Homo sapiens: one gene and its partners. The protein of the gene in region 1 interacts with the protein of each later gene in a pairwise test. Each region holds a gene or a part of one and is shown in the gene's direction. Other genes may lie near its edges.

The links.
Region 2: the proteins of ANKS1A (region 1) and RNF144B interact in a two-hybrid assay, tested with the Homo sapiens proteins (one large-scale study listed by BioGRID).
Region 3: the proteins of ANKS1A (region 1) and CASS4 interact in a two-hybrid assay, tested with the Homo sapiens proteins (one large-scale study listed by IntAct).
Region 4: the proteins of ANKS1A (region 1) and ITIH6 interact in a two-hybrid assay, tested with the Homo sapiens proteins (one large-scale study listed by BioGRID).
Region 5: the proteins of ANKS1A (region 1) and ZNF135 interact in a two-hybrid assay, tested with the Homo sapiens proteins (one large-scale study listed by BioGRID).
Region 6: the proteins of ANKS1A (region 1) and ANKRD55 interact in a two-hybrid assay, tested with the Homo sapiens proteins (one large-scale study listed by BioGRID).
Region 7: the proteins of ANKS1A (region 1) and SPATA12 interact in a two-hybrid assay, tested with the Homo sapiens proteins (one large-scale study listed by BioGRID).

The regions. Positions count from the first base shown.
Region 1 is NC_000006.12:35,014,755-35,018,254, forward strand, and holds part of ANKS1A (ankyrin repeat and SAM domain-containing protein 1A), read left to right. Parts: intron 1-2,271; exon of another isoform or gene 2,272-2,319; intron 2,320-2,718; coding exon 2,719-3,305; intron 3,306-3,500. UniProt on the Homo sapiens protein: Regulator of different signaling pathways. Regulates EPHA8 receptor tyrosine kinase signaling to control cell migration and neurite retraction.
Region 2 is NC_000006.12:18,397,350-18,400,849, forward strand, and holds part of RNF144B (E3 ubiquitin-protein ligase RNF144B), read left to right. Parts: intron 1-2,149; 5' UTR 2,150-2,185; coding exon 2,186-2,350; intron 2,351-3,500.
Region 3 is NC_000020.11:56,418,760-56,422,259, forward strand, and holds part of CASS4 (cas scaffolding protein family member 4), read left to right. Parts: intron 1-3,500. UniProt on the Homo sapiens protein: Docking protein that plays a role in tyrosine kinase-based signaling related to cell adhesion and cell spreading. Regulates PTK2/FAK1 activity, focal adhesion integrity, and cell spreading.
Region 4 is NC_000023.11:54,756,756-54,760,255, reverse strand, and holds part of ITIH6 (inter-alpha-trypsin inhibitor heavy chain H6 precursor), read left to right. Parts: intron 1-328; coding exon 329-500; intron 501-1,257; coding exon 1,258-3,291; intron 3,292-3,500.
Region 5 is NC_000019.10:58,058,398-58,062,281, forward strand, and holds the start of ZNF135 (zinc finger protein 135), read left to right. Parts: upstream 1-1,452; intron 1,453-1,571; 5' UTR 1,572-1,605; coding exon 1,606-1,638; exon of another isoform or gene 1,639-2,001; intron 2,002-3,182; coding exon 3,183-3,309; intron 3,310-3,884. UniProt on the Homo sapiens protein: Plays a role in the regulation of cell morphology and cytoskeletal organization. May be involved in transcriptional regulation.
Region 6 is NC_000005.10:56,223,331-56,226,830, reverse strand, and holds part of ANKRD55 (ankyrin repeat domain-containing protein 55), read left to right. Parts: intron 1-3,500.
Region 7 is NC_000003.12:57,067,164-57,070,663, forward strand, and holds part of SPATA12 (spermatogenesis-associated protein 12), read left to right. Parts: intron 1-3,500.

The DNA.
Region 1 (3,500 bases):
CAAAGTCATCTTGCATTCAAATATAGTCAGAGGGACATTGTACCTTGGGCCAGGATCTGTAGGAAGTCGGCTATTAGAATGTGGTCCCAGAGATGGCAAATTTTACAGCCTGATTAACTCTCCCCATCAGCTTCTCCTAGGAAGTACTATTGACCTGAACCACATTAAATGGTCATGTGTCATCCTCACTGTAGCCCCACCATGCAACATCACTGGGTAGCTTTGTTCTGGCTGCCAGTTGTTATATGTAATATTCGTAGCCATGAGTCGTGGCTTCCTGGGGCCTTGGTTAAGCTATATGAAACTCTTATGTAATCAGCATTCCTTCTTCCCTAGAGAAAGGATTCAAGTTTTTCAGGGTTTGTTCATTGCTCAGGACCTGACCTTTAAGTTGAGTTGAGGTGTGAAAGTCCCAAAGTGGTCAAGTTTGAAAGTCCCAAAGTGGTCAAGTGTAGAGGAGGGGCCCAACACAGTGGCTCACGCCTATAATCCAGCACTTTGGGAGGCCAAGGCAGGCAGATCACTTGAGGCGAGGAGTTTGAGACCAGCCTGGCCAACATGGCAAAACCCCGTCTCTACTAAAAATACAATAAAATTAGCTGGGCGTGGTGGCACACACCTGTACTCCCAGCCACTCAGGAGGCTGAGATGGGAGAATCGCTTGAACCCAGGAGGCAGAGGTTGCAGTGAGCCAAGAGTGTGCAACTGCATTCCAGCCTGGGCAACAGAGCAAGACTTGGTCTCAAAAAAAAAATAAAGAAGTGTAGAGGAGAGAGATGCCAAAGTTGGTGCTTCTGTGCTCCTGTGGATAAGTAATCAGAGCCATAAAGTGGAGCTAATTGGCTGCCCCTGGCCACTTCTCTAGACTCGTGAAAAGCTGAACAGACTGTGGAGACTGAACTGCTCTTCTGGAGCTGGGAGGGGAGAGGGGGCGATGGGAGAACTGTATCCCTGCTCAGACCTCAGCGAGTTGGGCTCACTGTGAGAGCTGGTTGTTGAGACATTTCTTAAAGGCTGTTTTGAAAAAACCACTGTTGCAGGAGAGTAGCGTCATGCTTGGGCATTGGAGACTGTGTTTTAGTACATTGTGTTTATAAAGCACTGCTCATTTTGCACCCCTCCTCACCTGGCTACCCTCTCCAGTTGCAGAACTGAACCTCAAGAAGGGGCTTTGGGCCTTCAGGCATGCTGATGAGGGAGAGTGGGTGCTGTGTAGACAGCAACAGGAGAGGTACCCAGGCAGGCATCTCACATCCCTAAGGGGGAGAAGTGTGCCATCATGACATGGTGGAGACCTGGATTCTCATCACTATCATGACATTAAAGGGATTTTTAAGTATCATGCAGCCCAGCCCAGTCACTTTAGACGCTGAGGCCCAATAAGATGAAATCACTGCCAAGGCCACACAGCTAGAGAACAGCTCAGCCAGGACCAGAGCCAGATCTTCAGGCTTCTAGGTTGAAGTCTTCTCCTGCACCACCTGGGGTAACCACTAAGACTCCTCATCTGTAAACATAGTTGACCCTTTTGGTTCTAAGATTCTCTGAGCTCATGAATAGTTCTTGAGAGTTTTGAGCAAACTAGGGAATTGTTTGGTATAGGTGCAATAGATCCCACTTATAGAGAAGGTTAAGTTGAATATTATGGAATGTGAGCTAGTGCTGGACATAGTGTTATTTACTCTGATGATGTGGGTTAAAATCTTTAATGGGGCTGAGTTCATGCAAGGAAAGCCCCTGGGTGTGCCAGTGTAGTGCTGATGTTAGATTCTGATTTGGCCAATTATTTATGCTACTTCAGGGCGAGGTATTTGAGTGTACAGTAGTAGCTGGCCTCATGAGCTAGTAGTGTCAGATTTCTAGGATGTTAGGGAAGTCTCGAGAGAACTGCAAATGTCTCCTGGCATTGACAAATTAGACCATTTTGTTTTCAGTGGATCAACTAAGGTTAAACTTAAACAAATATGAGCAGCTGGGAGATTTTGGAAGAAGCAAGATGTGCACATTCTCAAAAAAAAAAAAAAAAAAGAGAGAGAGAAAGAAAAGTCTGTGCTCCCTGAGGAAGGAAGGATGAGGCGTGGAACTCGGAATGGCCCCCTCCGAGGAAGGAAGCAGTTATTTCTCTGCCGTTTTGTTTCTGTTAAGGAATTCCAGAAGTTGCAGGTTGTGGATCATGACCTCTTTTTTTTTTTTTTTTTTTTTTCTGTTGCTGCTTGCCAGAGGAAGGGAGGGCGGGTGGCCTTTAAATAACACTTTGGCCTTTATGGAAATGTATCAGATGTTCCAGGAGTGGGTCTCCCTGCTCGCGCTTGCTCACTGGTGCTCTTACTTTTGCTTCATGTTCACTCACTCTGTCCTGACTTGTGTCCTTTCTCTAGGTTATACTTAACACTCTTCTCGCCTTATATAGCAAGGTCTGGTCGTTAATGTTAACAGAAATCTAACAACAGGGAAGGCTGCCAGATAGCATTAATCAGGCCAGTGTTTGGAATTTCATAAATGCTCTGACTTTGGGTACAAATTGAACATTAAGAACAATATGAAAACTGTCTTCCTTCCTCTCTCTTCTTCTCTCCTCTCCCCCTCCCCAGCCTATCCAGTTTCTCTCTCTGTTTCTCTGTGAATTCCTCTGCTTTGCCATATGCTTGCTGCATTGGAACTTTGTTGATTTTTGCCACGTTTAATTTTTTATTTCTCTGTCTCTCCGTCCACTCCAAGACCACAGGCGGAGCAGCAGCAGCCGGAGCCAGGACTCTGCGGAGGGGCAGGACGGGCAGGTCCCAGAGCAGTTCTCAGGCCTCCTCCACGGCTCCTCCCCGGTGTGCGAGGTGGGGCAGGACCCTTTCCAGCTGCTCTGTACCGCTGGCCAGAGCCATCCAGACGGGTCCCCCCAGCAGGGCGCCTGCCACAAGGCCAGCATGCAGCTGGAGGAGACGGGTGTGCATGCTCCTGGAGCCTCCCAGCCCAGTGCCCTGGACCAGAGCAAGAGAGTGGGCTACCTCACAGGCCTGCCCACCACCAACAGCCGCTCGCACCCTGAAACTTTGACTCACACAGCATCTCCGCACCCTGGTGGTGCTGAGGAAGGAGACCGGAGTGGGGCCAGGAGCCGAGCGCCTCCCACTAGCAAACCCAAAGCTGAACTCAAACTCAGCCGCAGCTTGTCCAAGTCTGACTCTGATCTCCTGACCTGCTCACCCACAGAGGACGCTACCATGGGGAGTCGGAGTGAGTCCTTATCCAACTGCAGCATTGGGAAGAAAAGGCTAGAGAAGTCACCCTCCTTCGCCTCGGAGTGGGATGAGGTAAGGCCGACATGACGTCACAGGGAGCTGGGCTGGCCAGGCTGGCCGCAGCCCACCACAGCTCCCGTGAGTGCCAACTCTCAGGCCCAGGATCTGGGCAAGGTTGCTCTGGTTCCTTCACTCCGTAACTAATGTATTTCTGACAATCGTAAGAAGAGGCGAGCCTCAGGTAGTCTGGATCACAGAGGACAGGTC
Region 2 (3,500 bases), about 17 Mb from region 1:
AGCTTGGTTCTTGTAGGGGGAGGTGTATTTGCAATTATTTCTATGGCAGAATTTATTAGAATTGGCCACTCTTTAAAAATAGTAAGAACTATAGGATTTTGCTTTTGTTTAACCAGAACATGAAATTTCCAGATGTGATATAAAATATGAATATGTGGAGAAATTATTTTCACAATTATTTAGTCTCTTTTAAAGATAAAGATTCAGAATAAAAACAATCTAGTAGAAGAACTTTGGCTGTAGTTTTTATTTTTCAGTCTAAAGATGTCTTTTCCCATGGTCATGCTGTGTGGGGAGACAAATTTTGTTTCTGTGCAGCTTCAGGGACCTTAAGGATAGCTGTAGTCATGGACTTCAACTCTCTTTTCCTCTTTCTGTCCCCCTTCCTCCTTCTTTTCTCTGCTTCGTCTGTCCATGTGATATCCACACAAGGCAGCTCTGGTGTAATGGATCTGGCACTGGGCTTGGTGGCCTCAGAAGGCTGAGGATTGTCTTCTGCTCTGCCATGTACAAGCTCTGAGAACTTTGGCAGATTACCTAACTTATCAGTATCACAATTAATCTATAAAATGGGGAAAACAATTATTTCATCATCCCAAGCAGAAACTCTGTACCCGTTGAACATGCCAGGTGAGGAAGCATACCCTGACTCGGGAGGTGGAGTCGGGAGGGTCATGTCAGTCCAGGAGTTCGAGGCTGCAGTGAGCTATGATTGTGCCACCACACTCGAGCCTGGGCAACAGAGAGAGACCCTTTCTCTAGGAAAAAAAAACCCCACAAACAGTAACTCTTCATTTCCCCCTCCCACCAGCCCCTGGTAACCTCTATTCTTCTTTTTGTCTCTCAGAATTGACTACTCTAGGTACCTCATTTAAGTGGAATCATACAATATTTGATTTTCTGTCTGGTTTATTTCAGTTAGCATGATGTCTTCAAGGTTCATCCATGTTGTAGCATGTGTCAGAATTTTATTTCTTTTTATTCCACTGTATATATAGACCACATTTTGTTTGTTCTTCTGTCTTTTTAATTTTTTATTTTTTGAGACGTTTCATTCTGTCACCCAGGCTGGAGTGTGGTGACGCAATCTTGACTCACTGCAACCTCTGCCTCCTGGGTTCAAGTGATTCTCCCGCCTCAGCCTCCTGAGTAGCTGGGATTACAGATGTGCCACTGTGCCTGGCTAATTTTGTATTTTTGTATTTTTTGTAATTTTGTATTTTTAGTAGAGACGAGGTTTCACCATGTTGGCCAGGCTGGTCTTGAACTCCTGACCTCAAGCAATCCACCTGCCTCGGCCTCCCACAGTGCTGGGATTACAGGCATGAGCCACTGCGCCCAGCCTCATTCTTCTGCTGATGGACACTTGGGTTGCCTCCACTGTTTGGCTATTGTGAATAATGTTGCTATGAATATGGGTGTACAAATATCTCTTTGAGACCCTGCTTTCAGTTCTTTTGGGTATATACCCGATTGCTGGATCATATGTTACCTCTTTGTTTAACTTTTTGAATGACATTCTATTTTAAGTACTTTTTGAGTCTGTTGAATTGATTGTAGTGATGCAACTCCTAAATATGTTTGCTCATAGTGATATTTCCCGCCCCTGACCTTCATTAAGGTATAATTGACAAATTACATTTGCAGTATACAATGTGATGTTTTGCTCTATGTATATAAATGCTTAAATCAAGCTAATGAACATCATCACTTCACATTTTTCTTTGTGTGTGTGTGGTGAGATCATTTAAAATCTACTCTTGGCCATTTTCAAGTATACAGTGTATTATTACTAACTCTAGTCACCAAGCTGCGTGAGAGCTCCCCAGAACTTATTCATCTCATCTAAATGAAACTTTGTAAGCTTGACCAACATCTCCCCATTCCCACCCCACCATAGTGGTCTTTTAATTTCCATAGCTCATATGATGTGAATCAGGACAGTGAGGTCAGCTTACATTTCAGGACTTCAGGGATACCTTGCCGAGGTAGGTGAACCACTCTCTAGCCCGTCGTTCCCAGAAATGCATTAGCTGTAAGTTTTGGGATAACTGAGGGTGAGAATTTGATCAGCTGGCCTCCAGACGTGTTGGCTAAACAATAGCTTTATCAATCCATATAATATTTTCTGCTTTGGACCTTTCTATAGGGATTGAGGAGACTGAAGAATGCTGAAGACAGGCTGATGGGCTCAGCTGGTAGGCTCCACTATCTCGCCATGACTGCTGAAAATCCCACTCCTGGAGACCTGGCTCCGGCCCCCCTCATCACTTGCAAACTCTGCCTGTGTGAGCAGTCTCTGGACAAGATGACCACACTCCAGGAATGCCAGTGCATCTTTTGCACAGCTGTGAGTTTTCCTTGATGCTTTCACTATGAGAAAATACAAAGGGAAAAATCATAAAAGTAGGATATATTTCTGTGGTTTACTGAGAAACCAGAGTGTGCTACAATATGATCCTGCTTTGGAAAGCATTTCATATTTGAACCTATTTCCAAATAGTATCTTAAATGGTAAATCCTGGGTTTACTTGTTTTAGCTGAGTATAATTTATGTTTGAAATTTAATTATTGGTTGAATAAATAGTCTTTCTGTTAAGGTTCAAACTATGGAACAGAATAGAAAAATTTTAACATGCTGGCCAGGTGCGTTGCCTCACACCTGTAATCCCAGCACTTTGGGAGGCCGAGGCGGGCGGATCACAAGGTCAGAAGATCGAGACCATCCTAGCTAACATGGTAAAACCCCGTCTCTACTAAAAATACAAAAGAAATTAGCTGGGCTTGGTGGCGGGCGCCTGTAGTCCCAGCTACTCGGGAGGCGGAGGCAGGAGAATGGCGTGAACCTGGGAGGCAGAGCTTGCAGTGAGCCGAGATCAGGCCACTGCACTCCAGCCTGGGCGACAGAGCGAGACTCTGTCTCAAAAAAAAAAAAAAAAATTTAACATGCTGTAGTTAACTACCACCTATAAGAAACTCACCAGGTATTTTAAATGATGGAGAAGTCAGGTAGTAATTTACTTTATGTACTGAATTTTCATTCATATACTTGTTCATCTTCTACAATGTACATGATATAAATTGTACTTTGTCATAGCTCCTTTTATGCTGTTTTCACAGTATGCTGAATCCTTCTTATTCCACTTAATGAGAGCCCTATAGACCTGCAGAAGTGGGCTTATCTCTTTTAGTGTGACACCTGGTATCAACACCTGTGACCTTTACTGCCACTTTTCCTTGAAGGTTGGTCGGTTAAGGTATAAAGGTAGGAAATAGATTGAGTTCCTGTAGGCTTCAGTGATGACACAGAATAGCATTGTTCATTTAATCAACAAATATCTGTTGAGCAGGAACTATGTCCCAGGAATGGTTCTAGGCACGAGGATTTATCAGTTAAGGAAACAAAACCCAGCGAAGTTTCTTGCTTTTAGGAGCTTATATTCTATATAAGAACGTTGTGTAGGAGTTCAGGGCTTAGAGGATGTTGCTGTTTTAGGTAG
Region 3 (3,500 bases), on another chromosome or scaffold:
TTATGTGTGTTACGTTTGATTCAGGAACACAATGTACCTTTCATTCCGTCAACAAATATTGAATGCCTGCTGCACACCAGGCACTGTTCTAAATGCTTCCAAGTCCAAGTGCCTGGTCCCCTTTCTCCATATGTAGTAAATAATTATTATGACTAATAAAAAATCCATCACATACTCATTATTGGTTCCCCTGTTTAATCACCTGTAGTCTTTGAACATTTTATTTCCTATAGAGCACACTTGGGGGGAAAAAAAGCTAAGGAGAATGCCACCATCACCCCAAAACTTAAAAGGTCTGAGAATAGACAGGCATTGGCCGACACGATAATGGAATGGGGAAGCAACTGTAGAATCAAAACAGGGCCGTTTTGGAATTGCGATGACTAAGGGAGGAAATGACAGGGGCCTGAAGGGGAAATAGCTTAAAAGGAGGAAGGTGGGAGGCTGGTAAGAGAGCTGCCACGGAGGGGGAGATTAGAACACTCCAACTTGAGTTGCAAAAAAAGGAAATACATTTTTTAGGAACCATTTCCAAACATAACGCCTATGAAGTGTTTGTTCAGGGGAAGAGCAGCCTTGTACACACACCTACGAAAAGCATAGTCGACACTGAGAAGACTGAGAAGAATATGCGTGGCCTCTTGTTCCTGGGAAAGCATCCCCAGCTCTCAGTGTGGGAGATCCTGCACTTCCCCCACACCACCCCCGCTCAGGCTGGAGTACAGTGGCACAATCTCAGCTCAGTGCAACCTCAGCCTCCTGGCTTAAGTGATCCTCCCACCTCAGCCTCCCAAGTAGCTGGGGCTTCAGGCATGCACCACTGTGCCCGGCTAATTTTTGTATTTTTAGTAGAGGTGGGTTTTTTTTCACCATGTTGCCCAGGCTGGTCTCGAACTCCTGTTTTTAAGTGATTGGCCCACCTCAGCTTCCCAAAGTGCTGGGATTACAGGCGTGAGCCACCGTGCCCGGCTAGGCTCTGCACTCTTAAAACTCCTCTAGGAGGCCAGGCACAGTGGCTCATGCCTGTAATCCCAGCACTTTGGGAGGCCAAGGCAGGTGGATCATCTGAGGTCGGGAGTTCAATACCAGCCTGACCAACATGGAGAAACCCCATCTCTACTAAAAACACAAAAATTAGCTGGGCTTGGTGGTGCACGCCTGTAATCCCAAATACTCAGGAGACTGAGGCAGGAGAATCGCTTGAACCCAGGAGGCGGAGGTTGTGGTGAGCCGAAATCACGCCATTGCACTCCAGCCTGGGCAACAAGAGCGAAAACTCCATCTCAAAAACAAACAAACAAAAGAAAGCTCCTCTAGGAGATGAGTGTGGACTGTGAAAAAGTTATTCACAGGCAATTTGAGGCCACCTACCTGGCCACTCAGAGAGTTTCTCCACGAGTTTATGTTAGTGAATGTATTGTTCTTTTCCTTTGAACAACTGCTTCACCTTATCATCAAGAGCAGCTTTTGTTTGCTCTACATGTTCTGGACAGCCCAGGCAGTCTGTCTTTTGTGGGGTTAGGGAGGGACAGGGGGCAAAAGAGCAGTAGGGTCATCCCTGTGTCTTGGAGGTGTTTGCCATCTGGTTAACAGTAAGTGAAAAGTGCTTTGTGGAATGTTCACTTTGGGTTCAGAAATTTTCTTTTAGAGACAGGGTCTCACTTTGTCACCCAGACTGGAGTGCAGTGGCGTTATCATAGTTCACTACAACCTCAAACTCCTGGGCTCAAGCAATCCTCCTGCCTCAGCCTCCCAAGTAGCTGAGACTACTGGTGCACGCCACCATGCCCATCTAATTTTTTTTTTTTTTTTTGTAGAGATGAGGGGCTCTCCCTATATTGCCCAGGCTTGTCTCGAACTCCTGACCTCAAGCAGTCCTCCTGCCTCAGCCTCCTAAAGCACTGAGATTACAGGAGTGAGCCACCACACCCGGCCCAGGTTCAAAAGTGAGAGTCTCCCCACGGTTGAAAGGGGAATAGAAGCACAAGAGTCAGTAATCAATAACAAACAACTCAAGGTGCTCCTTCCTTACACTGGTGTTCCCCAAAGTGAGGTGAATTGCCAGCCACTGGGAGTCAGGGCCAGTTACATAAGACATTCTCGGTAAGCCCCCTTTGGGTATCCCAAATAAGGACTGGGGTGGGTTTATGTGTAGTCCATTATTAACAACTAAACGAACAAACCTAGTGAATTGCAATAAATTCACACCAACAGAACAAAAGAAGAAAAGCTTAAACAAAAGAGTGGCTCCTTGCTTTCCTGAAGCACCTCTAAAAATGACCATAGAAAGATGGAAAAGTTTGGTGAACAAGCCTGAACCTTCACTCATTTCTCTGTCATGCATTAAACAGCTTGAGCCAGCTTTGAATTCTTCCGGGTCAATCAAATGGAAGTGCCCTGACTGCAGGCATGCCAGAGGATTTCAAGTGTGGTGCACAGAACAGTTTTTGTACAATACTGGTGTATCTTGATTTGCATTCAAACAAACTAAAACTAGCTCATCAAACCTGTAATTTCATGGGTAACATCGCTGAGGGACAGTTGTTTTTTAATTGACTCAATTTGTTATTTTACCTAAAAAATTGTAGTGGCACGTGGATATGACAGGAAGCAGGCAGTTGCTAGACACAAAACCCTTTAGAAACACAGGCTGGGGGCTGGGTGTGGTAGTCCACGCCTGTAATCCCAGCACTTTGGGAGGCTGCAGTGGGAGGATCGCTTGAGCCCAGCTGTTGGAGACCAGCCTGGGCAACATAGCGAGACTATCTCTACAAAAAATTTTTAAAAGTAGCTGGGTTTGGTGGCTCATGCCTGTAGTCCTAGCTACTTGAAAGGCTGAGGTGGGAGGATCGTTCGAGCCCAGGAGTTCGAGGCTGCAGTGAGCTGTGATCGCGTCACTGCAGTCCAGCCTGGGTGACAAAGTGAGACCCTGTCTCTAGAAAAGAAAAGAGAAAAAGAAACACAGGCTTAGACAAAGTTTTCTTCTAATTGGTGTCGGCATAATTGCTTACGACCCATCAAATAACACAAAACTCCTTCTTTCTTTATGCCTTTCCTCACTTTTTTCCTTAAAAAAAGAAAAAAGGAAAGAGGGAAGGAAAGGAAAGGAAGTTAGAGAGAAAAGCACCTGCATGTTATTTTCTCTGTAATCCCTCAGATGGCTTTCATGAACTAAGAGGTAAGAGTAAGAGAAGAATTCATGGGAAATGTAGATTTTGCAGCTGGATGGGAACTTTGGCGATTGCCCTGGGAAGCTATCTCACTTTCAGGTGAAGAAACTGAAACCCAGAGAAGTTCTGTTACTTGCCTCCTCCTTCGGTGGGTTTTTCATGAGCAAGGGTGAAATTGTCAGCCCCTTGACTTGATCCAACAGTTCCCCAAACCAAATATCTTAAGCAATAACTCAGGGACTTAGCTGGCAAGGAATAGACTTGGCGGTGGCAGGCAGTGGCAAGGCTGTGAATGAACACACTACGATCTCTGGAGCACTTTGAGTTGGA
Region 4 (3,500 bases), on another chromosome or scaffold:
CTGGCAACATGTGGCTATTGAACACTTGAAATGTGGCTACTGCAAATAAAGAATTAAATGTTTGAATTTTTCTTTAATTTTAGCTAGTTTATATTCAAATATAAGTAGCTACATGTGACTATTAGTTCCCATATTAAACAGTGCAGTTCTATGCCTTGGAACCCATAGAGTCTTTTCACCTGAGAATCCTAGATTCACAGAGTCCTGCAGTCAGAGAGTCTTAAAACCATATAACACTTAGATGTTAATGCCTTGTGTAGAAAAAGCCTTTCAATCTCATAGACCTCAAGTCTTGTCCCATTCTCTTCATTTCATCCATATCCCACAGACTAAAACGGCCATGAATGTGATCCTCAGTGACCTTCAAGCCAATGACTACTTCAACATCATCTCCTTTTCTGACACAGTTAATGTTTGGAAAGCTGGAGGCTCAATCCAGGCCACCATCCAGAATGTCCACAGTGCCAAGGACTACCTGCATTGCATGGAAGCCGATGGCTGTAAGTGTTAGATCTACCCACCCAAATGGGCAGGCTGTGGTGATATGGGAAATTCCTGAAACCCTCTCTTCATTCCCCCATCCTCCTCAACTCTCACAGTTCCTGAAATATCAAGACCACATTTCACACAAATATGGTCCTTTGTCCTCTGTGTTCTCCCATCACCCTTTCCTTGTAGAAAGAGCACAGCCGATTCTCCATGTATCTTAGGGCACATTTCTTTTTGGCCTCAGTTTCCTCTTCTTTAAAGCAAACACTTGAAAGAATTTGCTAAACTTTCTTTAAATCAATAATCTAGATATTTATTTCCAAGCATTTGAGGAAGCTGCTGCCCTGATTCTAGCTTTTAAGCAATCGTCTCTGACAACTACTGAAGTCTCCTCTACCCACTGCCTCCTGTCAACTCTGTCCTTTCTTCCCCTGTAGCAAGAAGGTTGGAGGGGGGGGTGCTAGCCTTGGGAGCCTGCCAGTCTGGCTCGGGAATGAGACATCTCCCCCCTCGACCCTGCACCACCAAGGAAACAGACAAAGAACAGTGTGAGACAGAGAGTGATAAAAGCCAAGGACATGTGGGCCCCAATGTCAGATCTCAGCAAGTCTGGGTGGGAGTGGAGAAGTTGGGAAGGAGAAACAGTGGATACAGCCTGAGCAAAGATAAGGAGCTGTGAGCCTGGGAAGTTGATGAGGTGCCCAGTGTGTCTGCAATGGGGGTAGAAGTGACCAGAGAAGATGGTCTCACAATCTATTCCCCAATTAGGGACAGACGTCAACTCAGCTCTGCTGGCAGCTGCTTCAGTGCTGAACCATAGCAACCAGGAGCCTGGGAGGGGCCCCAGTGTGGGGAGGATCCCTCTTATCATCTTCCTGACGGATGGGGAGCCCACGGCCGGCGTGACGACCCCCAGTGTGATCCTCTCCAATGTCCGTCAGGCGCTAGGCCACAGGGTATCCCTTTTCAGCTTGGCCTTTGGGGATGATGCTGACTTTACACTGCTGCGCCGCCTGTCCCTGGAAAACCGGGGAATAGCCCGGCGCATATATGAGGACACTGATGCGGCCCTACAGCTGAAGGGCCTCTATGAGGAGATCTCCATGCCTCTGCTGGCAGATGTGCGTCTGAACTACCTGGGTGGCTTGGTTGGGGCCTCCCCTTGGGCCGTTTTCCCCAACTACTTTGGTGGCTCTGAGCTGGTGGTGGCAGGACAGGTGCAGCCAGGCAAACAGGAACTGGGCATCCACCTGGCAGCCCGTGGCCCCAAGGATCAGCTTCTTGTGGCCCACCACAGTGAAGGGGCCACCAACAACAGCCAGAAGGCCTTTGGTTGCCCAGGGGAGCCAGCCCCCAATGTGGCCCACTTCATCCGCCGCCTCTGGGCCTATGTCACCATTGGAGAACTGCTGGATGCACACTTCCAAGCTCGTGACACCACCACTCGCCACCTGCTGGCTGCCAAAGTCCTCAACCTGTCCCTTGAATACAACTTTGTCACACCTCTGACTTCACTGGTCATGGTGCAACCCAAACAGGCCAGTGAGGAGACCAGGAGACAGACTTCCACCTCTGCTGGGCCAGACACCATCATGCCCTCATCCAGCAGCAGGCATGGCCTAGGGGTAAGCACAGCTCAGCCAGCCTTGGTGCCCAAGGTCATCTCCCCCAAATCAAGGCCTGTGAAACCAAAGTTCTACTTATCCTCAACTACTACTGCCTCTACCAAGAAGATGCTAAGTTCCAAAGAGCTGGAGCCATTGGGAGAGAGCCCTCATACCCTGTCAATGCCCACATACCCAAAGGCCAAAATTCCAGCACAACAGGATTCTGGCACCTTGGCCCAGCCAACTCTCAGGACAAAACCTACCATTCTTGTGCCCTCAAATTCTGGTACTCTGTTGCCTCTGAAGCCCGGCTCTCTATCACACCAGAATCCTGATATATTACCCACGAACTCCAGGACACAAGTCCCACCTGTGAAACCTGGCATCCCAGCCTCGCCCAAAGCTGACACTGTGAAATGTGTTACTCCACTGCATTCCAAACCTGGTGCTCCATCGCACCCCCAACTTGGGGCACTCACATCACAGGCACCTAAAGGCCTGCCACAGTCAAGACCTGGAGTCTCTACACTTCAGGTTCCCAAGTACCCACTACACACCAGACCTAGGGTTCCTGCTCCCAAGACCCGAAACAACATGCCACACCTGGGGCCTGGAATCCTCTTGTCCAAGACCCCTAAAATCTTATTATCTCTTAAACCGAGTGCCCCACCACACCAAATTTCCACAAGCATATCACTTTCCAAGCCTGAGACCCCAAACCCCCATATGCCTCAAACCCCACTACCTCCTAGACCTGACAGACCAAGGCCCCCACTTCCTGAGAGCCTAAGCACATTCCCAAATACAATCTCAAGTTCCACAGGTCCCAGCAGTACCACAACCACCTCTGTCCTTGGAGAACCCCTCCCCATGCCCTTTACTCCCACTCTGCCCCCTGGAAGGTTCTGGCATCAGTATGACCTCCTCCCGGGTCCCCAGAGGACCAGGCAAGTTCTGGGACCATCTAGGCCAGGAGTTCCAACAATGAGCCTACTCAACAGCTCCAGGCCTACACCAGAAGGCAGCCCTCCAAACCTGCCAATCTTGCTGCCTTCTAGCATCCTCCCTGAGGCCATCAGTCTGCTCCTTCTCCCTGAGGAGCTAGAGCTGCTGTCTGAATCAATGGTGGAATCCAAGTTCGTGGAGTCCTTGAACCCACCAGCTTTCTATACCTTCCTCACTCCTGATGAAGATGGTGAGTGCCATGGGTAAGAGGTCGAGCCATGAGGGTGAGGTATGAATGGACAGTACCAGGAGCTGGGAATCTACAAGGCTTATGCAGACTCCAGTGATGGGACAGCTGCTTCCTTGCTTGCTTGCTTGCTTGCTTGCTTGCTTGCTTGCTTGCTTTGGGACTTTGGACAAGTTACTTAACTTCTCTGGGCCTCAGTATACATGCATGGA
Region 5 (3,884 bases), on another chromosome or scaffold:
CCAAATCTTTGCAAGTGTCTGTGTGTGGTACGAGAATTCGTATTGTGTTCTCTGCTGTTTTCAGAGTTGTTTCAGTCAAAGAAAAAAAAATGCCCGTCTTAAAACTTTTCCTCTGCTTCAAATACAGCTCCCAAGCCCAGGCTGATTGGAATTAATCTGTCCTCCCTTAAAAGGGCAAAAGCACAAGGCTCAGCCCTGGCTTTCCCAGCTCCTCTGGTCTCGCTGCTCCACGGACGTGTGACGTACGCTGGTGAAACGAAGCCCGCTTGAATGGGGGCTTCACTATTGTGTGCTGCTGAACCTAGGCCTAGCGCCTGGCAGGCTTTGGTGAATGTTCAGAAAATGACAATTCATTTCGTGTCAGCGAGGGCACACCAGCTTTGAATATTTTGCTGCTGTTCAAATGCACAATTTTGACAATTACCTAGCAATGTCCAAAGTCGTCATAATTGTTAGTGTCTTGCACGTGATGTTCCTTATAACCATGTAATAAATACAGTGTGAAGTCTCCATGGCTGCCTCAGTGTGGAAAATGCAAAGACTCCCGTGTGTGCGATCTTGGTGAATGTTTTGGTTGAAAGTATGTGTTTTGAAAAAATCATTGCTTTGTTTGCAGCAGTAAAACTGACGGTAGAGTTTCCAACACGAAAGCCCGTGTGGTCGCGCCGGGAGCTCACGGCGTTCCAAGCGGCACTTATCCCGCGTTGATGCCCAGGCACCCCGCGCGCCCTGTTTCACCAGGCCCAGTCACTCCAGCTCCAGCAGCACTGAGAGCTCACGAACGCCAAGGGCGAGAGCGAGGTGGGGGAGGGCGGCCGGAAATGCGCGCGCGGCTCTCTGGGAAATGGAGTTAGGCTCGCGCCGGCGCAGTGTCGGCTGCCGGTGCCGCGGCCTTTGTCTCGCAGTCAGGAGGGTGAGCTAGGCCGGCGAGGAGGGGGAGGGGAGGCCAGGCCGGGCCGGGCCGGGCCGGGTGCGGGGGGTCCGGGGATCTTCCTGAGGCCCTGGCGGGGCGAGTTTCCAGCAGCGCGCGTCTGTGTGGAGTCCGTTTTGCTGCCCGGGGCCTGGGGAAGGCCGTTTCGGGGCTGGCGGGGGCAGGCTTTGCGGGGCATCCCTAGTCTGAGAGGAGGGCGGGGCCCAACGCCCAGCTGGACAGGAGCTGCTCCGACGGCCCCTGAGGGAACGCGCGCCCCGCCCCTGGCCCCACCTCTGCCCCACACCGGGCACTGGGCCGCCACCTTTGTTGATGGAAGAGAGAAACTGAGGCATAGTGCCCAGGGCCAGGGGACCGCAACCACCCGGCCCTTGTCACTGTAGCGTTAAGGCTCAGAGTCTGCGCAGCAGATATGTGTCCGCACCCGCCAGGCCTTCAGCTTCCCTCAGACAGGCGGGAAAACCCTAGGCTGCCCTTCTCCGAGCGGAGGGCCGCCCCACACACAGCAGGCGCTTAAACGGGTACGCGGGGCCCTGGACGGCTCTCCGCGGAGCTCCCCAGGCTCTGGCGCAGTTCCCCGGCTTGGGGACCTGAGCACCGCCTCTGCCTGCCCCAGCTGCTCACCTCCCCTTTCCCACAGAGCAGGGCCAGCCGTTCCTGCCAGAAGCCAGGGCATGACCCCTGGGGTGCGCGTCTCCACAGACCCGGTGAGAATCTCGGCCTCCTTGCGCGTGTCCTCCACCTCGTGCCCGGCCTCCTCGCGCGCGGCCTTCTCACGCCCGGCCTCCTCTTTGCACCCCGTCCCTACTCGCGCTCAGCCTCCTCCTTGTGCCCGGCCCCTACTTGCGTGCCCGGCCCCTACTCGTGCCCGGCCTCTACTCGCACAACTGGCCTCTACTCGCGCACCTGGCCTCTACTGGTGCCCGGCCTCTACTCGTGCCCGGCCTCTATTTGCACATCTAGCCTCTACTCGTGTCCGGCCTCTACCTGCACACCCGGCCTCCTAAAGTCCGCGCCAAGCTCCCCAACCACAGCCTGCCTCTGAAAGGACCGCCCACGCCGCGCTGGAGGTCAGCGGGCACGGGTCCCTGTCTGAGTGGGCTTTATGTTTGTGCGGCCGTCATTGCATACCTGAGGCTGGGTGATGTCAGAAAATTGTAGGTGCCCCGGCTCTGCAGTCTGAAGTTGAAGGCCTTAGCATGCTCTGCGCTCCAAGATGGCGCATCGAGTGCCGCTTCCTCAGACGTCATGGAGGCCAAGGGGGCGGAACTCGCCTTTTTATGATGACATTAACCCCACCCATAAGCCACCAGAAGAAACCAGCCTCCTGTAGGAATGTCAGAAAACCCGTACAAGGGGACTGGTGCGATGGCTTGTAGCTGTAATCCCAGCTATGGGGGAGGATTGCTTGAGCCCAGGAGTTGGAGGCTGCAGTGAGCCATGATGTGCCACTGCACTCCAGCCTGAATGACAGTGGAACCCTGTCTCTAAAAAATTAAAAAACAAACCCAGATTTGGCCGGGCGCGGTGGCTCGCACCTGTAATCCCAGCACTTTGGGAGGCCGAGGTGGGCGGATCACGAGGTCAGGAGATCGAGACCATCCTGGCGAACACGGTGAAACCCCGTCTCTACTAAAAATACAAAAAAAAATTAGCCGGGGGGGTGGCGGGCGCCTGTAGTCCCAGCTACTCGAGAGGCTGAGGCAGGAGAATGGCGTGAACCCAGGAGGCGGAGCTTGCAGTGAGCCAAGATCATGCCACTGCACTCTAGCCTGGGCGACAAAGCGAGACTCCGTCTCGGGGGAAAAAAAAAACCACCCAGATTCAGTCTTTAGACTTCTGCTACTAGCTTTATAACTTTGTTTATCCCCTAGGCTGAAGTGCAGTGATGCAATCATGGCTCACTGTGCTTCAAACTTACGTGCTCAAGTGATCCTCCCACCTCAGCCTGTTAAGCAGCTGGGACCACGGGCATGCGACACCATGCTGGGCTGGTCCACTCCTTTATTGCTGGCTCCCTCCATTTCTTATTTCAAGAGACAAATTATTGGAAACGGGCATGATGCCTTAGATTCTAAGATCCTCCACCTCATCAGCAGGGCACCCATCCAGGCCCCACAGAAAAACCTGACCCAAAACCCCAGACCAAAGGGAACTCCATCCGACCCAGCCTGGCTGGCATTTACCAGCTACCCCACCAGCAGCCAGTGCCAGGGTTGGCTTGGCTGAGGACACTCGTGTGATGTTTCAGGAGCAAGTGACGTTTGAGGACGTGGTAGTGGGCTTCAGCCAGGAGGAGTGGGGGCAGCTGAAGCCTGCCCAGAGGACCCTGTACCGTGATGTAATGCTGGACACCTTCAGGCTTCTGGTCTCTGTGGGTAAGGCCACACCCATGTCCTATCTGTTGATCTGTCCCTGACACGGATTCTGATTCTACCAGGTTAAATATTTATAGGACTGAGCTTTAAAAGCAAATGCCTGGGGCTGTATGTCTTGGGCTTTAAGAACCTGACTGTTTTAATGTAGGAAATATCAATTAAGACCAATATTAGCAAGTCTCAGACTCAACCTGAAATCAACAGAAGCAGAGAAACATGAGGTGAGGGAAACATACTGGGTCTGAAGACTACAGAATCCCAGGGTAGACCAGGGTGTTCTGTAGAGCTGTTAGGAGCCCCTCCTTCTTCAACACCTCCCTCTGCACTTCTGTCTTAGTCTGTTAGGGCTGCTAAAATACCTTAGACTGGGTAATTTTAAACAATAGATATTTGTTGCTCATGGTTCTGGAGGCTGGGAAGCCTAAGATCAAGGTGTCAGCAAATTCAGTGTTTGGTGAGGGCTTGCTCCTCACTGATGGCACTTTCTTCCTGTGTCCTGACATGCCATAAGGGCAAGGGAGTTATCTCAAGCTTCTTTTATAAGGGCACTGATCCCATTCATGAGTGGAGCCCTC
Region 6 (3,500 bases), on another chromosome or scaffold:
TGACTTGTTAATGATTGCCATTCTAACTGGTGTGAGATGGTATCTCATTGTGGTTTTGATTTGCATTTCTTTGATGGCCAGTGATGATGAGCATTTTTTCATGTGTCTGTTGGCTGCATAAATGTCTTCTTTTGAGAAGTGTCTGTTCACACCCTTCACCCACTTTTTGATGGGGTTGTTTGATTTTTTCTTGTAAATTTGTTTAAGTTCTTTGTAGATTATGGATATTAGCCCTTCGTCAGATGAGTAGATTGCAAAAATTTTCTCCCATTCTGCAGGTTGCCTGTTCACTCTGATGGTAGTTTTTTTTTTGCTGTGCAGAAGAAGCTCTCTAGTTTAATTAGATCCCATTTGTCAATTTTGGCTTTTGTTGCCATTGCTTTTGGTGTTTTAGACGTGAAGTCCTTGCCCATGCCTATGTCCTGAATGGTATTGCCTAGGTTTTCTTCTAGGGTTTTTATGGTTTTAGGTCTGACATTTAAGTATTTAATCCATCTTGAATTAATTTTTGTATAAGGTGTAAGGAAGGGATCCAGTGTCAGCTTTCTACATATGGCTAGCCAGTTTTCCCAGCACCATTTAATAAAGAGGGAATCCTTTCCTCATTTCTTGTTTTTGTCAGATTTCTCAAAGATCAGATGGTTTTAGATGTGTGGTATTATTTCTGAGGGCTCTGTTCTGTTCTATTGGTCTATATCTCTGTTTTGGTACCAGTACCATGCTGTTTTGGTTACCGTAGCCTTGTAGTATAGATTGAAGTCAGGTAGCGTGATGCCTCTAGCTTTGTTCTTTTTGCTTAGGATTGTCTTGGCAATGTGGGCTCTTTTTTGGTTTCATATGAACTTTAAAGTAGTTTTTTCCAATTCTGTGAAGAAAGTCATTGGTAGCTTGACGGGGATGGCATTGAATCTATAAATTACCTTGGGCAGTATGGCCATTTTCATATTTATTCTTCCTATCCATGAGCATGGAATGTTCTTCCATTTGTTTGTGTCCTCTTTTATTTTGTTGAGCAGTGGTTTGTAATTCTCCTTGAAGAGGTCCTTCACATCCCTTGTAAGTTGGTTTCCTATGTATTTTATTCTCTTTGAAGCAATTGTGAATGGGAGTTCACTCATGATTTGGCTCTCTGTTTGTCTGTTGTTGGTGTATAAGAATGCTTGTGATTTTTGCACATTGATTTTGTATCCTGAGACTTTGCTGAAGTTGCTTATCAGCTTAAGGAGATTTGGGGCTGAGACGATGGGGTTTTCTAAATATACAATCATGTCATCTGCAAACAGAGACAATTTGACTTCCTGTTTTCCTAATTGAATACTCTTTATTTATTTCTCCTGCCTGATTGCCTTGGCCGGAACTTCCAACACTATGTTGAATAGGAGTGGTGAGAGAGGGCATCCCTGTCTTGTAACAGTTTTCAAAGGGAATGCTTCCAGTTTTTGTCCATTCAGTATGATATTGGCTGTGGGTTTATCATAAATAGCTCTTATTTTTTTGAGATACGTCCCATCAATACCTAATTTATCGAGAGTTTTTAACATGAAGGGCTGTTGAATTTTGTCGAAAGCCTTTTCTGCATCTATTGAGATAATCACGTGGTTTTTGTCTTTGGTTCTGTTTATATGATGGATTACGTTTATTGATTTGTGTATGTTGAAGCAGCCTTGCATCCCAGGGATGAAGCCAACTTGATCATGGTGGATAAGCTTTTTGATGTGCTGCTGGGTTCGGTTTGCCAGTATTTTATTGAGGATTTTTGCATCAATATTCATCAAGGATATTGGTCTAAAATTCTCTTTTTTTGTTGTGTCTCTGCCAGGCTTTGGTATCAGGTTGATGCTGGCCTCATAAAATGAGTTAGGGAGGATTTCCTCTTTTTCTGTTGATTGAAATGGTTTCAGAAGGAATGGTACCAGCTCCTTTTTGTAGCTCTGGTAGAATTCGGCTGTGAATCTGTCTGGTCCTGGACTTTTTTTGGTTGGTAGGCTGTTAATTATTGCCTCAATTTCAGAGCCTATTATTGTCCTATTCAAGGATTCAACTTCTTCCTGGTTTAGTCTTGGGAGGGTGTATGTGTCCAGGAATTTATCCATTTCTTCTAGATTGTCTAGTTTATTTGCGTAGAGGTGTTTATTGTATTCTCTGATGGTAGTTTGTATCTCTGTGGGATCAGTGGTGATATCCCCTTTATCATTTTTTATTGCATCTGTTTGATTCTTCTCTCTTCTTTATTAGTCTTACTAGTGGTCTATCAATTTTGTTGATCTTTTCAAAAAAGCGGCTCCTGGATTCACTGATTTTTTGAAGGGTTTTTTGTGTCTCTATCTCCTTCAGTTCTGCTCTAATCTTAGGTATTTCTTGCCTTCTGCTAGCTTTTGAATGTGTTTGCTCTTGCTTCTCTAGTTCTTTTAGTTGTGATGTTAGGGTGTCAATTTTAGATCTTTCCTGCTTTCTGTTGTGGGCATTTAGTGCTATAAATTTCCCTCTACACACTGCCTTAAATGTGTCCCAGAGATTCTGGTATGTTGTGTCTTTGTTCTCATCAGTTTCAAAGAACATCTTTATTTCTGCCTTCATTTCATTATGTACCCAGTAGTCATTCAGGAGCAGGTTGTCCAGTTTCCATGTAGTTGAGCAGTTTTGAGTGAGTTTCTTAATCCTGAGTTCTAGTTTGATTGCACTGTGGTCTGAGAGACAGTTTGTTATAATTTCTGTTCTTTTACATTTGTTGAGGAGTGCTTTACTTCCAACTATGTGGTCAATTTTGGAATAAGTGCGGTGTGGTGCTGAGAAGAATGTATATTCTGTTGATTTGGGGTGGAGAGTTCTGTAGATGTCTATTAGGTCCGCTTGGTGCAGAGCTGAGTTCAATTCCTGGATATCCTTGTAAACTTTCTGTCTCATGGATCTGTCTAATGTTGACAGTGGGGTGTTAAAGTCTCCCATTATTATTGTGTGGGAGTCTAAGTCTCTTTGTAGTTCTCTAAGGACTTGCTTTATGAATCTAGGTGCTCCTGTATTGGGTGCATATATATTTAGGATAGCTCTTCTTGTTTAATTGATCCCTTTATCATTATGTAATGGCCTTCTTTGTCTCTTCTGATCTTTGTTGGTTTAAAGTCTGTTTTATCAGAGACTAGGATTGCAACCCCTGCCTTTTTTTGTTTTCCATTTGCTTGGTAGATCTTCTTTTGAGCCTATGTGTGTCTCTGCATGTGAGATGGGTCTCCTGAATACAGCACACTGATGGGTCTTGACTCTTTATCCAATTTGGCAGTCTGTGTATTTTAATTGGAGCATTTAGCCCATTTACATTTAAGGTTAATATTGTTATGTGTGAATTTGATCCTGTCATTATGATGTTAGCTGGTTATTTTGCTTGTTAGTTGATGCAGTTTCTTCCTAGCATCAATGGTCTTTACAATTTGTCATGTTTTTGCAGTGGCTGATACCAGTTGTTCCTTTCCATGTTTAGTGCTTCCTTCAGGAGCTCTTTTAGG
Region 7 (3,500 bases), on another chromosome or scaffold:
TTTGTCGGCCAGGCGCGGTGGCTCACGCCTGTAATCCCAGTACTTTGGGAGGCCAAGGCGGGTGGATCACAAGGTCAGGAGATCGAGACTATCCTGGCTAACACGGTGAAACCCTGTCTCTTCTAAAAATACAAAAACAAAATTAGCCGGGCGTGGTGGCGGGCGCCTGTACTCCCAGTTACTCGGGAGGCTGAGGCGGGAGAATGGCGTGAACCCAGGAGGCAGAGCTTATAGTGAGCCAAGATTGCGCCACTGCACTCCAGCCTGGGTGACAGCAAGACTCTGTCTCAAAATAATAATAATAATAATAATAATAATAATAATAATATTTGTCTATATACTGATCAAAGCTATCATAGTAGATATATTTGTTTTCAAATGCAACTTTAGGGTGGGTGCAGTGGCTCACACCTGTAATCCCAGCACACTGGGAGGCTGAGGCCAGAAAATCACATGAGGCCAGGAGTTTGAGACCAGCCTGGGTAATACAGAGAGACCCAGTCTCTACAAAAAATTTAAAAAATTAGCCGGCGTGAGACCAGGCACGGTGGCTCATGCCTGTAATCCCAGCACTTTGAGAGGCCGAGGCGGGCGGATCATGAGGTCAGGAGATCGAGACCATTGGCTAACACGGTGAAACCCCGTCTCTACTAAAAAAAAAAAACAAAACAAAAAAATTAGCCAGGCAAAGTGGCGGGCTCCTGTGGTCCCAGCTACTCAGAAGGCTGAGGTAGGAGAATGGCGTGAACCTGGGAGGCAGAGCTTGCAGTGAGCCAAGATCACACCACTGCACTCCAGCCTGGGCGACAGAGCAAGACTCCGTCTCAAAAAAAACAAAAACAAACAAACAACAACAAAAAATTAGCCGGTGTGGTGGCATGCACCTGTAGTCCCAGTTACTCTGGAGGCCAAGGCAAGAGGATCACTTGAGCCCAGAGGACACTAGACACGCATAGGGTAACTATTGTTTCACCAAATAATTCAGATATGCGCGCACACACACATACACACACACACACACACACACCAGGTTACCAGGTTGCAGTCTATGTTTTACAATAGGTCACAGTCAAAAACATGGGAGAAGCCACCATACTCCACCACACAATAAATGCTTAATAAAATTTGGTAGCATCATCATTCTTATCTCACTCTAAAAGGTAATACGTTCATTTTCTTCATTAGCATTTATTATCACAATAAAATAGAGCTTCTAACACATTTATCAATGCTGCCACTCACTGCAGTGCTGTTTAAGAGTCATTGCACCTCCCTAAATTAACTTGCCAATTCTCTCGCCTCAAAAGGACTCAGGCAATCATTTAAATAATTTCTGACTCACAAAGCTGGCCAAGGATTAGCGAGGCCCTGCCCAGCCCAGAACACATGAAATGTGAGTGATTTGTTAAGAAAACCATTTGAGTTTGCAAGACTGCACAGGGCTTTTATAAAACTAAAGCCATGCTGGAGAGAAACAGTCCTCCCCACCCCCTTGGGAGATGTGTCATAGAGATAGGTCACACAAGGTCAGCCAAGCTGTACCTTCTGAGACTGGGCAGGAACTGAAGCGCCAAACCTCAACTGTGTAACGTGCTTCCTTGTTTTGGGGTTAGGTTATATCATTGTGTTTTTCCCCTAACTTTCCATGTGCACACACACGCACACACCCCCCTCACTAAAGGATGGAAACAAAATCCCTATGAACTGCCGGTTCCAACAACTTAAATAAGGGAATCTGCTAAGGCAAAAGATCTGATTTTTTTTTTTTTTTTTTCTGAGACCGAGTCTCGCTGTATCACCCAAGCTGGAGTGCTATGACGTGATCTTGGCTCACCGTAACCTCTGCCTCCCAGGTTCAAGCAATTCTCTGCCTCAGCCTCTCTCTAGTAACTGGGATTACAGGCACTCACCACCACGTCTGGATAATTTTTGTATTTTTAGCAGAGACGGGGTTTCACCATCTTGGCCAGGCTGGTCTTGAACTCCTGACCTCGTGATCCACTTGCCTCAGCCTCCCAAAGTGCTAGGATTACAGGCGTGAGCCACCACGCCTGGCCTAGATCTGAGATTTTGAAGACCTCAAAACATATATTCTATTGCATGTAAGTTTCTCTTCTCCCAGAAACAAACTAAAAACACAGTCCAAATTCATGCTTTTTTAAATTGCTTTTTTGAAACAACTGCAATAAATAACTCTAATCTCTGTCTCTCAAACACACACACACACACACACACACACACACACACATTGTTTGTTTAAAATGAGAGCTCCTCACCCCAGATGAGTTGAGGTATGAATGGATTTGAAGTTTCAAATGTAGTTTCCCAGGTTGTTCTTTAAGTTTAGAAAACAAGGTTCCAAGTGATACAAATATAGGCACTCCATTTTTTATTATTTCTTTCTTGAAAATAAAATCATGTATTTGTGCTGTGCCAAAGCATTACATCTGGAACACATAAGTACATGTCAGGGTGTAAACTAAGCTTTTTTTTTTCTTTTGAGACAGGGTCTTGCTCTGTCGCCAAGCTGGAGTGCATTAGTGTGAGCACAGCTCATTGCAGCGTCAAACAACGGGGCTCAAGCTATCCTCCCACCTTAGCCTTCCAAGTATGTGGGACTACAGACATGTGCCGTCACACCCAACTAATTTTTAATTGTTTTATAGAAATAGAGTCTCGCTTTGCTGCCCAGGCGGGTCTCAAACTCCTAGCCTGAGGCAATGCTCCCACTTCAACCTCCCAAAGTGCTGGGATTACAGGCATGAGCCACTGCGCCTGGCCTAAACTAAACTTTTAATATGTGATATTACTCCCTTTTTATTTTTATTCCATTCTTCAAACTATGATGTGAGTGAATTGGGGGTGAGGGGCTAAGATTGTTTTAGCAGCAGAACTCTTTCCTCAAATGAAATTGTACCCCTTTGCCCAACAGATAAAACAAGATAAAATGGAGCCTGGCTTCAATTCTCCTATCACCACCTGGTGCCTCCAGGGCTGTGGGGTCTCCCAGTTCCCACCACACTTCTCCAGGCATGAAGCAAGGGGTTATGGGAGTATCTTAGAGATCTCCATCCCATCCTTAGCATGAAGGAAAGCCAGATCTGTCATATGTGTGTCCAGGTGCCAGATGCACTCCCATTTCACAAATTCAGGAGTTAAATGTCTTACCCAAGCCTTAAATTAGACACTACAGTATACTGTGTTACTTTCTTCAAAAAGGAAAGAGACATTTACATCGCTGGAGTTTTGTCTGTGCAGTTTGATGGATGGGTCTCAGAGTGCCTACTCAGCAGACTCAATGACTAGGGAAGCTGAGTGAGCAGTGCCACCAGCAAAAAGGAATTTAGGTTCCACAGTTAATATTGTTAAGATGGCAAAACTCCCCAAGTGATCTACAGAGTCAATGTAACCCCTGTCAAAATCTCAGGTCTCTTTTTGCAGAAACTAACAAGCTGATCCTAAAATTCATAGGGAGATCCAGAACAGCCAAAATAATCTAG